2 separate regions of the Homo sapiens genome follow, and region 2 is linked to region 1. The links come from fine-mapping of genetic effects on gene expression. A gene starts in region 1. The other region holds a variant in brackets. All regions are shown on one strand. Distances are between the middles of the regions.

The links. PIP is the estimated chance that this variant, and not a neighbour inherited with it, causes the effect.
Region 2: its variant is fine-mapped to the expression of SRD5A2 in nasal epithelium (TOPMed, PIP 0.94).

Annotation. Positions count from the first base shown.
Region 1 is chr2:31,576,056-31,584,055 of GRCh38, reverse strand. SRD5A2 (steroid 5 alpha-reductase 2) reads left to right here and starts at 3,118. Exons shown (of 5, transcript NM_000348.4): 1 at 3,118-3,436. The coding sequence starts at 3,156.
Region 2 is chr2:32,237,020-32,245,552 of GRCh38, reverse strand. It overlaps NLRC4 (NLR family CARD domain containing 4), which reads left to right. Exons shown (of 9, transcript NM_001199138.2): 5 at 4,428-4,520; 6 at 7,251-7,421. Among named protein-coding and RNA genes, the nearest start is that of NLRC4, 24 kb to the left of the region's middle. The variant T/C (reference allele first, on the strand shown) is at 4,593.

The DNA.
Region 1 (8,000 bases):
GTCCAGGTAACAGAAAAGTAAAGACAGCCGCTGTACCCCAGAGCCTGCTAAAAGTATTCAAACGAGCTAATCCTAAGCCTGATTACCTTGTCATGCCCACTCTTTCCTGCAGAAACTACAGTAAAGGCTCTTGCCCACCTTGACCCCTCACTCCAGCTGCCTCCTAACACTGGTGCTTCTCCATGTGGTCTTGGGTGGTGTGCTGTGTCTTCTGTTTGTAGGGATCTGTCGATATAAACCTTTTCCTTCACGATAGTCATTTCTGTGTCTGCATATGTTACCACATTGATTAAAAAGAGTAAGTACTGTATGATTCCACTTACCCGAAATTCAAAAGCAGACAAAATTAACTTATGGTGTTAGAAGTCAGGGTAGTGGTGTTTTTTTTTTTTGCTTTTTTTTTGGTTTTTTTTTTGCTTTTTTTTTGTTTTTTTTTTTTTTCCTGGAAGGAGGATGTAAGGAGGCAGGAGCACAGATCCTGATATGCTGATAATCTGTATCTTGACCTAGGTGCAGCTTGCAAGAGGGTGTTCAGTTTGTGCAAATCAACCAAGCTGTATATTTATAATTGGGCACTTTCTTCTTGCATGTAATACAGACCAGTTGCATTATTGGTTCCAATTTTCTACCTCCCACTATATCCCTGCCCTTTACCATGTAACTTTACAAATAGTCTCTCACTTTGGCTCTAGAATCCACCATATGACTTGATTTGGCCAATACAATAAATAGGAAGTAAGGGTGTGCTTGTTCTTGGCCTGAGCCTGAAGAGGCCTTGTGTGTTTCTTCTACTCTCGTACTTTTGTTATTAACATTATATAGACATGGTGGAGCTAGCTCACTCATCCCAGGATGAGAGCCTCAGCTAAGTTTCTCCATCCAAACACAGCCTGGAGCTGGGCTCTAACTTGTTACACAGATGAATGAGTGAATATTGTTAAGATAAGTCAAGCCCAGCCCAGATTTCTGACCCACAGCCAACCCACAGATGCATAAGCTGAAGATGACTGGTTTTATCAAGCTAATTGTTATAATAGTGGAGAAAAGATCATGAGGACAAAAAGTGGGCAGAGTCGGAAGAAAAGAGAGGAAGAAATTGAGACAGAAGACATTTCATTTAAAAAAATATTCCATTGAGCTGGGTTTGAAATAGTGCACTGCCTGTTCTCCTAATGCTGTATGGTATCATGAAATCTATTGTTTACTGAGTCTATGAGCCAGCTTCCTAGGGAGGCTATGGCAATTGAGGACAGGGAAGAGGTAACACTCAGGAACATAGAAGGAGAATTTGGGTCCAAGTGGGTGGAGGGAAAAATAACTGGGTTTAGTTTTGGGTAGGGCTGGTTTTGAGGTCTCTGAAGGACATGTAAGTGGAGTTTTCCAGCAGGGAGAAAACGCAGAGCTAAAGCTCATATCTTTGCTGGCAATCTAGATTTGGGCATCTTCAACAAGCAGGTTGTAGCTGAGGAAGCTGGGACTGGACTTGTACTCTAAAGCCAGTGCAAAAAAAGCTTGAAACGGCTATGATGGCTAAGACCTGGCTTTTCCATGAAAAATGCTTCGGTCAGTATGAGTGATTCCAAAGTGGTGATCAATTAAAAACTGAAGTATGATTAGCATTAATTATAACCCAATGGGAATATGATAAACGACTCTTGGTCAGCAAGCAGAGGGTGCCCTGTAGTGCTAAAGCATCACCATATACCATGTGTGCCAAGAATCAGGAGACACCCCAAACGGGAGCAGATGAGGGGTTGTGTCTGTCATTGGACCAGCTGGCCTGATCCAGCAGAAGTGGATGGAGATACACTGAATGGGGCTCCTGGGAGGCGTGAGTTGAAGGGGAAGGAAGAGAAGAGACCTCCAAAGTAAGGGAAGAGTGAAAAATGAGAAGGACTGGGGTGGAGCCCCAAGTAGGGACCAGAGGAGAAAACAGGGATAAAGTAATCAAGGGAGATGGGACAGGAAGATGAAAGAATGAGGTAAACAGCAGGTGGGAAGAGGAGGTCAACCTAAAGGAGAAAGCCGGGTCGAAGAAAGAAGGAAGAGAAGAAAAGAAGGGTTGGGAAACAGAGGAGGAGGCAGCCAAGAAAGCCTGGAAGCTGAATCATAGAACGGAAGAGGTAGAAGACGGAGGGGCTGGAGGATAACATAAAGGTGGGAAACGGAAGAGAGAAAGAACCGCGTCTGCGTGTATGACGGCTAGACAGGAGTTCAGAGAACAGCGGGGTCGCCAGGCCACCACCTGATGGGCCACGGCTCATTGGCTCTAGGAGCTGGGAAAGGGCATCCCAGGAAAGAAGCCCTAGACTTTAGCCTGAGTCTGGGCCACTCTAGGGGACCGGGAGTGGGGTGGCGGGAGAGGACGCGCAGAATCTCGACTTCTGGCCCCAATCTGTGCATGATCACCCGAGCTCAGCGGACGCTCCTCTCTGACCCAGGCAGGCGGCTCAGGGACGCGTGCGGGGATGCAGAGAGAAACCGCTGAGGAATTAGGGCCGGGAGAGACTGGTACCTGCCGGGGGCGTGTGGTGGGGCAGAGCTGGCACTGATGCTGAGAGTGGCTAAGGAGCGCGGCGCCCCAGAGCAGAAGGGCTGGCAGACGCTCAGAGAGCCAGGATGGTTCAGGGTCCAAGGAAGGTCCTATGTTGGGTGGGAGCTGTGAGGGAGTGAAAGTGCATGAGGAACCGGAGGAGATGGAAAGACCTTGGCTTGGGTGTTCGAGGGTGGGACTGCGTGGTGACCGACGGCACAGAGGGTGTGTGTTGGGGCGGAAGAACCACCCCAGCTGAATCGTCCCCGTGGGGTTTTCTTCCCGTGTCTTAGTTCCAGAAGTATGCGCATCAGACGCTAATAGTTGAGGAACAAGTCATGGAAGGACAGCCTAAGCGGGAGGTGAATGTAAAGCCGTGGAGAGGGCGGGCGAACTAAGAAGGCCTTCGTTCTCCTCCGGCCACCGCGGCTGCATCCTTGAGAAAGGGGTATTGCTGCGAACCGCGCCAGGGCTGGACGCGGCGAGGTGGGAGGCAGGATGGAGGGGCGGGAGCCAAGGCCGAGGGGGCGGACACGGGTGGCGTCTGGCGCTCCATAAAGGGGTTGCGGGGGCCGCGCTCTCTTCTGGGAGGGCAGCGGCCACCGGCGAGGAACACGGCGCGATGCAGGTTCAGTGCCAGCAGAGCCCAGTGCTGGCAGGCAGCGCCACTTTGGTCGCCCTTGGGGCACTGGCCTTGTACGTCGCGAAGCCCTCCGGCTACGGGAAGCACACGGAGAGCCTGAAGCCGGCGGCTACCCGCCTGCCAGCCCGCGCCGCCTGGTTCCTGCAGGAGCTGCCTTCCTTCGCGGTGCCCGCGGGGATCCTCGCCCGGCAGCCCCTCTCCCTCTTCGGGCCACCTGGGACGGTACTTCTGGGCCTCTTCTGCCTACATTACTTCCACAGGTAGCGTTTTTCCCTTGCGGGCGCCCAGTGCAGCGCACTGCCCTGCTCCCGGCGTCCAGGAGCGCAGCGTGGAGCGCGCACCGAGGAACGCCAAGGAGGCAGCGTGGGGCGCTGTGAGGAACGCGGAGGCCAGCCTGCCTGGCGCACCTGGCGGGGGCCGGGGCCGGGGCTTGGACGCTAGAGAGTTGACAAGCGGCTGCGGCACAGACGCCGCCTTCACTCCCCCAGGACCTCATCCGCTCTCAGCAGCTCCAAATCCTCTGGCTGCTCGAGAGAAAGAGGTCCTGCGGGCGGGAGGCGACCTGGAAAGCTCAGGTTGGGGAGACCTATTGGACAGGACTGTTCCTTAACTGCGCGCAGGCGGCGGTTACCTGTGGCATATCGCGCCCCGCCCCGCTTCCCTTTCTTCCTTCACCTTTTCCTTGCAGGGTGGGGACAGATTAGTTCTGGGATCTTGGGAGAGTCTTACGCGTTTGGCATCTCCCGAGGGAAACTCAGCTCAGAGGTTCTCATTGATTTAGTCTTTGCAGGTCTAAGGAGGAAGGTGGGTAGAGCCCAAATCCAGACTTCACAGATGGGGAAGAGAATATAGTGAGATCCCACTGACTCAAGCGAGGGTCCCCGCTTCTTAGGCCCCTCCCAAAAGGGACCAAGCACACCACCAATTCATCTACCTTTCCAATTTCCCTGGGACTTGAAATGTGAGTGGGTAACTTACAGCTCAAATGTTCTTCTAGATTTAAAAAATCCGGGTTCAGGAGAACTTTGCTTTCTGCTCTGGGAAGGAAAGACAGGAAAGAGACCAAGGGATGTCAGGGTTCAGAGAAAGACTGTCCAGCCTCAGTAAAGTCTCACAGGGAAAGGGAAGAACGAACACATTGTTAAATTGCCTACCATGCCCAATCGTTTAGTATCTATGGTCTCACTTAACTCTGTTGTAACCTTTTGAGAGATATTTATTATGTCCACTTTACAAAGAAACTGAGGCTGAGTAAGGTTATGGGACTGAAAGAAGACAATACAGCTGGTGCCCGCTAAGATGCAAATCTGAGCTTGTGAATCTCTGAGGTTTAAGACCTTTTAGCCGTTTTAAGTAGGCAGATATTCTATGCAAGAAGAGAACAGAGCCCATAAACAGAGAAAAGTTATCAAACGAAATCAAAACCTTGAAGGTTTTGCCTTATTTTGAGTAGAAGATTCCTAGGGTCAAAAGATCAAGGAAGTTTGGATTAGAAATTAGGATAAAGAATGCCTCTGGCATAATCTGTCTCGTAAAGAGAAAGTGATGCCTCATTTCGAGAGAAGAAGGTGTCAGAGACGGATTTCAAACTGTCTTTCTTAATTTCCTCTTATCCTCTGAATCTTCTTTATTGGTCAAGATTTAATATTTATGCAATCTTAACTGAATTCTCACTCTTTTTAAAAGGCAAATGTTGTCAAGTAATAAGAACTAAACTGTATCCTTTCAACAAATATTTACTAAAAGCCTGCTGTGAACAAGATTCTTTATTTTACACAGATTTTATTTTACTCAGATTTAGATGGTTTAATTTGCACAGAAAGAAGGATGTTGGATACAGGAGATAAGAGATTAGTTTTTTATTTCACTGATTTTTGAACAGACATTTGACAGAAATGTGATTTTTGTCAACAATTATTTTTATCTTCAAATTAACTACTGTATGTTGGCAACATAAGCAATATTTTTATGAGGTCATTTCATCTTAATGATTAGTGTTTTGTGACAATCATATTAATGTAATCTTTAGGCTTGTTTTTGAAATCAAAAGGCACTTTGCACAATACATTATGACCGGTGCATTTAAAAAAAAACCCAAAGGAGTAATTATGCATAAAACAAATATCTACATATTGTCCTTCTTCAGAGGAAATTTTAAAATATTAGTAAAGGACTTGGAGATTCATTCTGCCTGAGGGAAAATTGCCCACTGGAAGTACAACTCTTGAGCTACTTGTTCCTGAGGCATCGGGATCTGATGTTTGTCTTTCCTCTTTTTTGAATTCTTTCTTTGAAGCCACTGGAGTGTGTGATCTGTTATTATTTGAGTGCTTACAGGGTGTTACACTCTGTGTGCCAAACACTCTGAGTAAATAATTTACTCATCCTCATACCAACCCATTTAGGTAGGCACGCCCATTTTGCAGGTGGAAAACTGGAGCAAGAAAAGGTTAAATAACTTCCTTGCCCAAGGTCACACAATAACGAGGAATCAGAGTTCAAACCCAGGCAGTAGACTCCAGATCTCAGGCTCTTCAGGTATGATAATAAACTGTTGTATACTTGTTGGATAAATGCGACCTCATTCTTGCTTTTTAAAAACTATATTTATTCTTAAAATTATTATGTAAAAATTTTTTAAATTATAAAAACATTTTTTCCTAATGAAAAATGGAAAAATCCCAAAAGTAGAAAATACTCATAATTACATCTAAGTATATTAAATATTAATGTTTTAGAGAATTTCTATCAAATCTTTTTCCTTAGTAGATTTTCACACATGCTTGTTATGTTGAATATATGGTTTTTTAGTTCTGTTTAATTACCTAACATTTTATAGTATTTTCCAACATTATCACAGATTTCTTAATATCTGCTTATTTCATCTACTGTAAAAATAATAATTTACCTATATATTCATTTATAGTTGGACATTTAATTTGTCTTGGGGTGAGGCTAGGTTCATTGAAGCTGTGATGTACATTTTTTGCATCTAAATTCTTTTCAAAGGTTAGATCTATTTTCTTAGGATTTCCAGAAGTGGTTCAAAGGTTATGAACATTCTTTAGGGTCTTGATATAATCATACATATCTGTTTCGAGGCTTAAGGAGTCATTTGGCTTGATACTGAGGGTGCATTAAGGAACAAGCATCAGGCTGTCTTGGCTTTATCTCGTGCTGTGTGTTGCTAAGACAGAGAATAAGACGGAGAGACAGGGAGAAAGGATGGCTCAGGTTTGGCTCAGACTCTTTTGCAAAATGTCCATTGGGGACTGTTCAAAGCAGCAATATGTCCCATCAAATAGAAGTTAAAACTCATTGTACTTTTCTCAATACAAGGATGGCACACAAGAATGTAGATTCCACAGGGTCAAAGGTTTTTGTCTCACTTTTATGGCTGTATCCCCATTGTATACAAAGAGCTGGTACATAGTTGGTACTCACTAGAATTTGTTGAATGCATGAATGAACTCTACTTACAACAACCGTACAGACAGAATTGTAGGAGAGCTAGCAATTACTTGGGAATCATAATTGCTGAGATTGCATAGTTAGGTCAATTCAGATAACTTTCCTCTCTTCAGAATCTATTGTTGTGGCTGTTTGGATTCTTTAGCCACATGGAAATGACTGCTGCCTAAGCACATTGCCTAATCCCACTGCCAAAGGCATTTGAAGTCAAGAGTTATCTCACCTCTTTTTTTTTTTTTTTTTTTTAATGTTTTTTTTTTTATTATACTCTAAGTTTTAGGGTACATGTGCACATTGTGCAGGTTAGTTACATATGTATACATGTGCCATGCTGGTGCGCTGCACCCACTAACGTGTCATCTAGCATTAGGTATATCTCCCAATGCTATAAGAAAAACCAACACAGAGACCACCACAGTTCCCAGAGTGTGATATTCCCCTTCCTGTGTCCATGTGATCTCATTGTTCAATTCCCACCTATGAGTGAGAATATGCGGTGTTTGGTTTTTTGTTCTTGCGATAGTTTACTGAGAATGATGGTTTCCAATTTCATCCATGTCCCTACAAAGGACATGAACTCATCATTTTTTATGGCTGCATAGTATTCCATGGTGTATATGTGCCACATTTTCTTAATCCAGTCTATCATTGTTGGACATTTGGGTTGGTTCCAAGTCTTTGCTATTGTGAATAGTGCCACAATAAACATATGTGTGCATGTGTCTTTATAGCAGCATGATTTATAGTCCTTTGGGTATATACCCAGTATTGGGATGGCTGGGTCAAATGGTATTTCTAGTTCTAGATCCCTGAGGAATCGCCACACTGACTTCCACAATGGTTGAACTAGTTTACAGTCCCACCAACAGTGTAAAAGTGTTCCTATTTCTCCACATCCTCTCCAGCACCTGTTATTTCCTGACTTTTTAATGATTGCCATTCTAACTGGTGTGAGATGATATCTCATAGTGGTTTTGATTTGCATTTCTCTGATGGCCAGTGATGATGAGCATTTCTTCATGTGTTTTTTGGCTGCATAAATGTCTTCTTTTGAGAAGTGTCTGTTCATGTCCTTCGCCCACTTTTTGATGGGGTTGTTTGTTTTTTTCTTGTAAATTTGTTTGAGTTCATTGTAGATTCTGGATATTAGCCCTTTGTCAGATGAGTAGGTTGCGAAAATTTTCTCCCATTTTGTAGGTTGCCTGTTCACTCTGATGGTAGTTTCTTTTGCTGTGCAGAAGCTCTTTAGTTTAATTAGATCCCATTTGTCAATTTTGGCTTTTGTTGCCATTGCTTTTCGTGTTTTGGACATGAAGTCCTTGCCCACGCCTATGTCCTGAATGGTAATGCCTA
Region 2 (8,533 bases), 660 kb before region 1:
AATACTAGATCTTATTTATCCCTTCTAAGTATTTTTTTGTATCCATTAACCATTTCCACCTCCTCCCTACTACCCTTCCCAGCCTCTGGTAACCATCCTTCTACTCTCCGTGAGTTCAATTGTTTTGATTTTTAGATCCTACAAATAAGTAAGAACACGTGATGTCTGTCTTTCTGTGCCTGGCTTATTTCACTTACCATAATGACCTCTATTCATCTGTTTTTTTTTTTTTTTTTTTTTTTGAGAAGGAGTCTCACTCTGTCGCCCAGGCTGGGGTGCAGTGGTGTGATCTCGGCTTACTGCAACCTCTGCCTCCCAGGTTCAAGTGATTCTCTTACCTCAGCCTCCTGAGTAGCTGGGATTACAGGCGCCCAATAACACGCCTGGCTAATTTTTGTATTTTTTAATAGAGACAGGGTTTCACCATGTTGACCAGGCTGGCCTTGAACTCCAGACCTCAAGTGATCCACCCACCTCGGCTACCCAAATTGCTGGGATTACAGGCATGAGCCACCGTGCCCGGTCTATAATCCCATTTTCTACATAATGCTCAGCCTCCTAAGTCGCTGGGACCACTGACATGTGCCACCACACCTCGCTACCTCACTAATTTTTTCTCTTCTCATTCTCCTCCTCTTCCTCCTCCTTCTCCTCCTCCTCCTCCTTCTTCCTCTCCCTTCCCCTCTCCTTCCCCCTCCCCCTCTCTCCCTCTCCTCCTCCTCCTCCTCCTTCTTTTTTGTAGAGAGGAGGTCTCTCTATGTTGCCAAGGCCAGTCTTGAACTCCTGGGCTCAAGTGATCCTCCCCATCAGTCTCGCAAACTGCTAGGATTATATGTATGAGCCACTGCACCCAGCCAGTTTTAGAAGGGTTTTTTTTGTGGGGTTTGCAGAAGGGGGTGTTGTAGATTCCTTGACATTTTTATCATAGACAATCATGTTATCTTCGAAAAGAATGATTTTAAATTCTTCCCTTCCAATCTGTATTCCTTTTATTTATTTTTTTTTTTTGCCTTATTTCACTAACTAGGACTTGTAGTACAATGTTGAATAGTGACATGAATTAACATCTTGCCTTGTTCCTGACCTTAGGGAGAAAGCATTCAGACTTTCACCTTTAAGTATAATGTTAAATGTAGTTTTCTTGTAGGTGTCTTTTATCAAGTTGCTGAGAATTTTTTTTTTTTGGTCATGAATAGGTGTTGGATTGTGCTAAAGATGTTTTCTGTATCCATTTATATGATCATGTCATTTTACATGGATGGATGTTGGATTGTTTTTATTAAATTATTTTTAGATTATTTTTGAGGCAGGGTCTTGTTCTGTCACCCAGGCTGGAGTGCAGTGGCGTGATCATAGCTCACTGTAGCCTTGACTTCCTGGGCTCAACAGATCCACCCACCTCAGCCTCCTGACTAGCTGGGACCATAAGTGTGAACTATCACATCTGGTTAATTTTTAAATTTTTTGTAGAGACGAGTTCTCGCTATGTTGCCCAGGCTGGTCTTGGACTCCTGTGCTCAAGAGATTTTCCCGCCTGGGCCTCCCGAAGTGCTGGGATTACAGGCGTGAGCCACCTAGCCTGGATGTTGGATTATGTCACATGTGTTTTCTGCATCAATTTATGGGATCACGTAGTTTTACTTTTAGACTGCCAATATAATGAATTATATGGATTGATTTCCACATATTGAGCATCCTGCATTCCCTATATGAAGCCCATTTGGAGGTGGTGTAATATTCTTTTTTTTTTTTTTTTTGAGATGGAATCTTGCTGTGTCACCAGGCTGAGTGCAATGATGCGATCTCGGCTCACTGCAACCGCCGCCTCCTGGGTTCAAGCAATTCTCCTGCCTCAGCCTCCCAAGTAGCTGGGACTACAGGCGCGCCACCACGCCCAGCTAATTTTTGTATTTTTAGTAGAGACAGGGTTTCACCATGTTGGCCAGGCTGGTCTCAAACTCCTGACCTTGTGATCCACCTGCCTCGGCCTCCCAAAGTGCTGGGATTACAAGTGTGAGCCACCACGCCTGCCGTAATATTCTTTTATGCATGACTGAATTCCATTTTCTATTTTGTTGAAGATTTTTGATTCTGTATTCATGAATGATATTGGTCTAAAGTTTAATTTTCTTTCTTTCTTTTCGAGATGGGGTCTCACTCTGTCACCAGGGCTGGAGTGCAGTGGTGCGATCTCAGCTCACTGCAACCTCTGCCTCCTGGGTTCAAGCGATTCTCCTGCCTCAGCCTCTGGACTAGCTGGGATTACAGGCGCCTGCCACTACACCCAGCTGATTTTTTGTATTTTTAGTAGAGACGGAGTTTCACCATGTTGGCCAGGCTGGTGTCAAACTCCTGACCTCGTGATTTGCCTGCCTCGCCCTCCCAAAGTGCTGGGATTACAGGTGTGAGCCACCTCGCCCAGCCTCAATTTTCTTTCTTTTCTTTTCCGTCCTTCCCTCCCTCCTTTCTTTCTCTATTCTCTCTCTCTCTCTCTTTCTTTCATTAAAGACATTGTCTCATTCTGTCACCAAGGCTGGAGTGCAGTGGTGTCATCACACTTCATTGCAATCTTGAACTCCTGGGCTCAAGCGATTCTCTTGCCTCAGCCTCCTGAGTAGCCAGGACTACTCACACCTGCCACCACACCTGGGTAATTTAAAAAATATTTTGTAGGGATAGGGTCTGGATATATTGCCCAGGCTGGTCTCAAACTCCTGGCCTCAAGTGATCCTCCTACCTCTGCCCCCCAAAGCACGGGGATTATAGGAGTGAGCCACTGTGCCTGGCCTAAAAGTTTTTCTTCTACGTCTTTTTCTGGTTTTCATATCAAGTTAATGATGGCTTCATAAAATGAGTTGGGAATTATTCTTTGTACTTCTATTTTCTGGAAGTGACTGTGTAGAATTGGTGTTATTTCTTCTTTAAATGTGTGGTAGATATGAAGACAGTTGATAGAAGGAAAAAAATGAAAATGTGTGGCAGAATTTGCAAGTGAACATATCTGTGCCTACAGATGTCTTTTCCGGGAAATTTTAGATAACAAATTCAATTTCTTTAATAGCTATAAGGTTATTCCGGTTACCTACTCCGTATCACATGAGTGTTGGTAGTTTGTGGTTTTCAAAAAATTGGTCAATTTCATATATGTTGTCAAATTTATGTGCATAGATTTGTTTATATTATTCTCTAATTGTCCTTTTAATATCTGCAGTGTGTGTAGTGATATCCCCTTTTTTGTTTCTGATATTGGTAATTTTTGTCTTCTTTTTCTTTGTCAGTCTTGGTAGAAATTTTTAAATTTTATTGATCTTTTCAAAGATCCAACTTTTAGCTTCATTGATTTTTTTCTATTGTTTACCTGTTTATAATTTTGATTTCTGGGCTGGGCATGGTGGCTCACGCCTGTAATCCTAGCACTTTGGGAGGCTGAGGCCAAAGGATCACTTGTGCTCAGGAGTCCGAGACCAGCCTGGGCAACATAGTGAGACCTTGCCTCTGTTTTTAATTTGTATAATAAAGGCATAATAACTTTGATTTGCACCCTTATCTTTATTATTTTCTTTCTTCTTTCATTTATTTTGCTCTCTTTTCTGTAATTTCTTAAGTAGTATGCCTAGGTTGTTGATTTGAGGCCTTTCCTCATTTCTAATATAAGTATGCAATACTGTAAATGTCCCTGTAAGCACTGTGTTAGCTGCAGATTTTTTTTTCTTTTCACCCCTTTGTGAGGAGAGAGCTGCAGATTTTGAAGTTTTGTTTTTATTTTTATATTTTTCAAAATATTATCAAAGTTTCCATGAGACTTCTTCTTTAATGCATGATTATTTAAAAATGTGTTGTTTAATTTCCAAGTGTTTAGAAATTTCCCTGTTATCGGCCAGGCGCAGTGGCTCACGCCTGTAATCCCAGCACTTCGGGAGGCCGAGGCAGGCGGATCACGAGGTCAGGAGATTGAGACCATCCTGGCTAACATGGTGAAACCCCGTCTCTACTAAAAATACAAAAAAAATTAGCCGGGCGTGGTGGCAGGTGCCTGTAGTCCCAGCTACTTGGGAGGCTGAGGCAGGAGAATGGTGTGAACCCGGGAGGTGGAGCTGGCAGTGAGCTGAGATTGCGCCACTGCACTCTAGCCTGGGCGACAGAGCAAGACTCTGTCTCAAAAAAAAAAAAAAAAAAAAAAAAAGGAAATTTTTTTCCCTGTTATCTGGGAAATTGGTATCTAGTCTATTATTTGCAGAACATGCTTACAGTGAAGTATAATGCCCATCTCTTATAAAAAGTATATTTTTATGTCTATTTCATGAGCATTTTTGGCTCATGATGATCATTAAAATCTTTTGATTGGTAACAAAAATGACAGTAATAGTAAATGACATAGTAAATAGCAAATATCTGCTGAAAGAGTCCAATCTTTTTTCTTTTGACAGGTGGTCTGACTGACAGCTTGGGTAACTTGAAGAACCTTACAAAGCTCATAATGGATAACATAAAGATGAATGAAGAAGATGCTATAAAACTAGGTCAGATTTCTGTTCTCATATTTGTATCAATGTAAGTTTGATAATAAGAGGAGTTAACTTCAGGCTCTGACA[T/C]TGGCTGTGTCTGCACAAGGCAAGGATGTTTTTATGTACTTGTGGCTACATTGGTTTCCCCAGACATTTTCCCTACTGCCATTAAAATCCTTCAGCATCATTTTATTCAAATTGTACAACACCAGATGGTAACCCTTTTGGGAAGAGAGCCCCTGACGTGTTTTTAACTTCCGTCTCCCTGGCTCATTGGCTATGTTTTTATTTAATGCATAGAAACAATATTTTAAAGTTTATAGTATAGTTTCATAGTTGCATAGAAACAATATTTTAAAGTTTATACTATGGTTTCATAGTTAAAAAAATTCATAAATGAAATAGGACACAGGAAACAATGTGAATCAAGAAAACTTTGGGGGAAGCATGCTTTCATTCTACACTGCAGGTTGTGTTTCCCCAATCAAAAAAATGAAAAGGAAAAGGAAACTTCAGGAACACAAGCAGAACACATGGCTTACCACAGGGAACCAGGCCCTGCAGGCCAGGGAGGATTCCTGTTAAAGCTGCTTTCCTTGAATGTCCCTGTTTTCTCGTGTGTTGGATTTTTTTTTTTTTTTTTTTTGGCTCTTTTTTTCCCTACTTGAGTCCTCACTAAAATACTCCTCTCTTCCCTTCATCTTGTTCTTTCTTATTCTGCTTCCTGCCGAAAGACAACTCTAGCCTATAAGCCAAACATGGCTGAAGCCTGGGCATGGTGGATCACACCTGTAATTCCAGCACTCTGGGAGGCCGAGGCAGATGGATCACCTGAGTTCAGGAGTTCGAGACCAGCCTGGCCAACATGGTGAAACCCTGTCTCTACTAAAAATACAAAAATTAGCTGGGCATGGTGGTATGCACCTGTAATGCCAGCTACTTGGGAGGCTGAGGAAGGATAATCACTTGAACTCAGGAGGAGGAGGTTGTAGTGAGCCGAGATTGCTCCACTGCACTCCAGCCTCGGTGACAGAGATAGACTCCATCTTGAAACAAAAACAAAAACAAAAGCAAAACATGGCTGACTTCTTTTCCTTATATGTCCTACGTGAGAATAATCAAATTAATTCAGTGTTCAATAAACATTTATTGCATGTGTATAAATTACACAGAAAATCAGAGCTGGAAGGGGATTGAGAGCATCTAATTCAACTCATTCATTTCACAGAAAACTCCACTAGAACCTAAAATAGCTTATTGACTTGCTCAAGATCTTACCAACTGGTAGAAAGAGGTCAAAAAGTACCTCTCTAGGATAGCCTGCTTCTGCTATTAAGGAATCAAAATGTGAACTTGACTAAACCAGTCTAATTATATCAGTAATAATTTACTCTTTATTAAAGAGTTACTCTGCTATAGATTAGACACTAGCCTCGGCAGTTTTATATACCTCATTCCATTGAATCCCCACAACAGTCCTAGTACATAGATATAATGATCCCTAACGCTTCAGCTAAAAGATTGAATAACTTGCCCAAGTTTATAATTATTAAGTAGGGGATCCAGGAACTGACTGCAAAGCTCATGCTCACAACCTTTAACCGGTATATACTCCCATGACAACAATGAACATTTATGGAGCACTTACTATGTGCCAGGCACCACATTAAATATGTTAACGTACATTATCTGCAACCTTCCCGAAAGCTCTGCAAGACTGATATTATTAGAATCATATATTTTATTTCTTTTCTTTTCTTTTCTTTGAGATGGGAGTCTCGCTCTGTCGCCCAGGCTGGAGTGCAGTGGTGAGATGTTGGCTCACTGCAACCTCTGCCTCCTGGGTTCAAGCGATTCTAATGCCTCAACCTCCGAAGTAGCTGAGATTACAGGTGTGCACCATCACGCCCAGCTAATTTTTGTATTTTTAGTAGAGATGGGGTTCCGCCATGTTGGACAGGCTGGTCTTGAACTCCTGACCTCAGGTGATTCGCCTATCACTGCCTCCCATAGTGCTGGGATTACAGGTGTGAGCCACCATGCCTGGTCATTAAAATCATATATTTCTTTCCCGTAGGCTACAGTACCATCAAGATAAGACAGTATTTTAATGACACAAAGTGAGGCCTAACCAATCCTAAACTGCACATTAGCTTTAGACTTAAGAACGGGGGATATTTTAGAATGTTTCCAATTATACTGTTGATATAAGGTAAATCTTTCTTCTGGTTAAACATGCTGCAGTGGATGTGGTCTTCATTCTAAAGCTTCAGGCAGGCCCCATATCATGAGTCCAGGCAAGGCTTTTGAGGCTGTAGACAGTTGCACTAGAAGCACTCCAAGGAGCCAAGTCCTCATCTACCTCCCTGAACTCAGCCCCCCCGCTGTTTAAGATTTTTGAGAAGATTGAAAGGAGAGTGCTCTAGAAGACTTCATTCATGTAAAGAATTACGGTAAGAGTATACATTGATGCCCATTAAAAAGACTACAAATTTACTACAGTGTTTCTCATGCTACTAAGAGAATAACCTCCATATAAGTGATTTTTTGTGTGGTCCAAGAGACTGGAAAGTGAGAATTGAAAGAAAAAAAGCTCTCGTTGATTCTTTGTAACTTAAAGTCGCTGCAGGAAGAACATGGCAAGGTCTCTGCACAATTATTCTTTGCTTTCTTTTCAGTTCATTAATCTATGCTTAAATCGAATTAACTTGGTATCCTAATGCATTCCTTTCTATCATTTTTCAGCTGAAGGCCTGAAAAACCTGAAGAAGATGTGTTTATTTCATTTGACCCACTTGTCTGACATTGGAGAGGGAATGGATTACATAGTCAAGTCTCTGTCAAGTGAACCCTGTGACCTTGAAGAAATTCAATTAGTCTCCTGCTGCTTGTCTGCAAATGCAGTGAAAATCCTAGGTAACTGTTGCTTCCATTAACTGAATGAGGACAGTATAACAGAACATGTGATACTATTATACTAATTCACACTAAATGTCTCAAATGGAAATTTAATTTTAAGGAAAACTGGAAAATAAAAACTTCTCGATAATAAGCAGATTGTTTTTAATGATTTTTCTCCATATTAGAATTAAATCAACTATTGATGGATAATAGGGGAGAATTTCAGAATAATTGAAGATGTAATTTTTAGAGAAAGTGAAAAGGAAGAAAATAAGAAATAGGTGCTTGAAACTTGCCACACAACCGGTCATATAATTTACTGCCTAATAAACATTTAAATGAATGGATAAATGATTGAGAAGTGAGAGATAAAGATTTTCTTAAATGATCTCAGGCTTCTAATTCCTACCCATTGCCCTGTTAAGATGAAGTTAATGTGCATGATATGATAATTGAGCCTTCTGAGTTCCCAAAGGGATGCATATCAACTACGGGGAAACTAACTGCATATTTCTGGATAAACTATACATGTGTAATTCAGACATATTTTAAAATTTAGATTTTGGAAAACAGTGGTATAATCTTTTTAAAGTTAAACTATATAACTGCTGGGAGTCTCTAAAGATAACTAAGGAAGCCATTTGTATACTAATATAAAGTTACAGCTAGAGAAACCCACAGTTGAAAAAGGCTGGATAAGTACTGGGAATATGAGAACAATGAGCACATGCCTTTATTTCTCTACTTACTGATGGGGAGAGACAGGCTTAGAACTGCAAATAGCAAACGTACTCTTTTAAAGAGAAGTTCAGCAGGTTTTTTATTGTAGAGCACAAAACCCAGAAGATACTTTAAGAAAAGGGCTCATATGATTGATTAAAAATAATAATAGCCAATATTATAACAAGAGTACATATTCATGAAAAACTTGTCTGATTTTTTTAAAAAGGAGATTTTTCTAGCCCTGACAGAAAAAACTTCAGCTAGATTAAGCAAGAGTGATAATATGTGAAGAAAAGCACTAAGCAATTCTTAGCTAGACTGGTACTATTATATAATTAATGTTTGCATGCAAAATAGTTTTCCATTACCTCAACATATTTGTGTCTTTGTCATTCAAACACGTC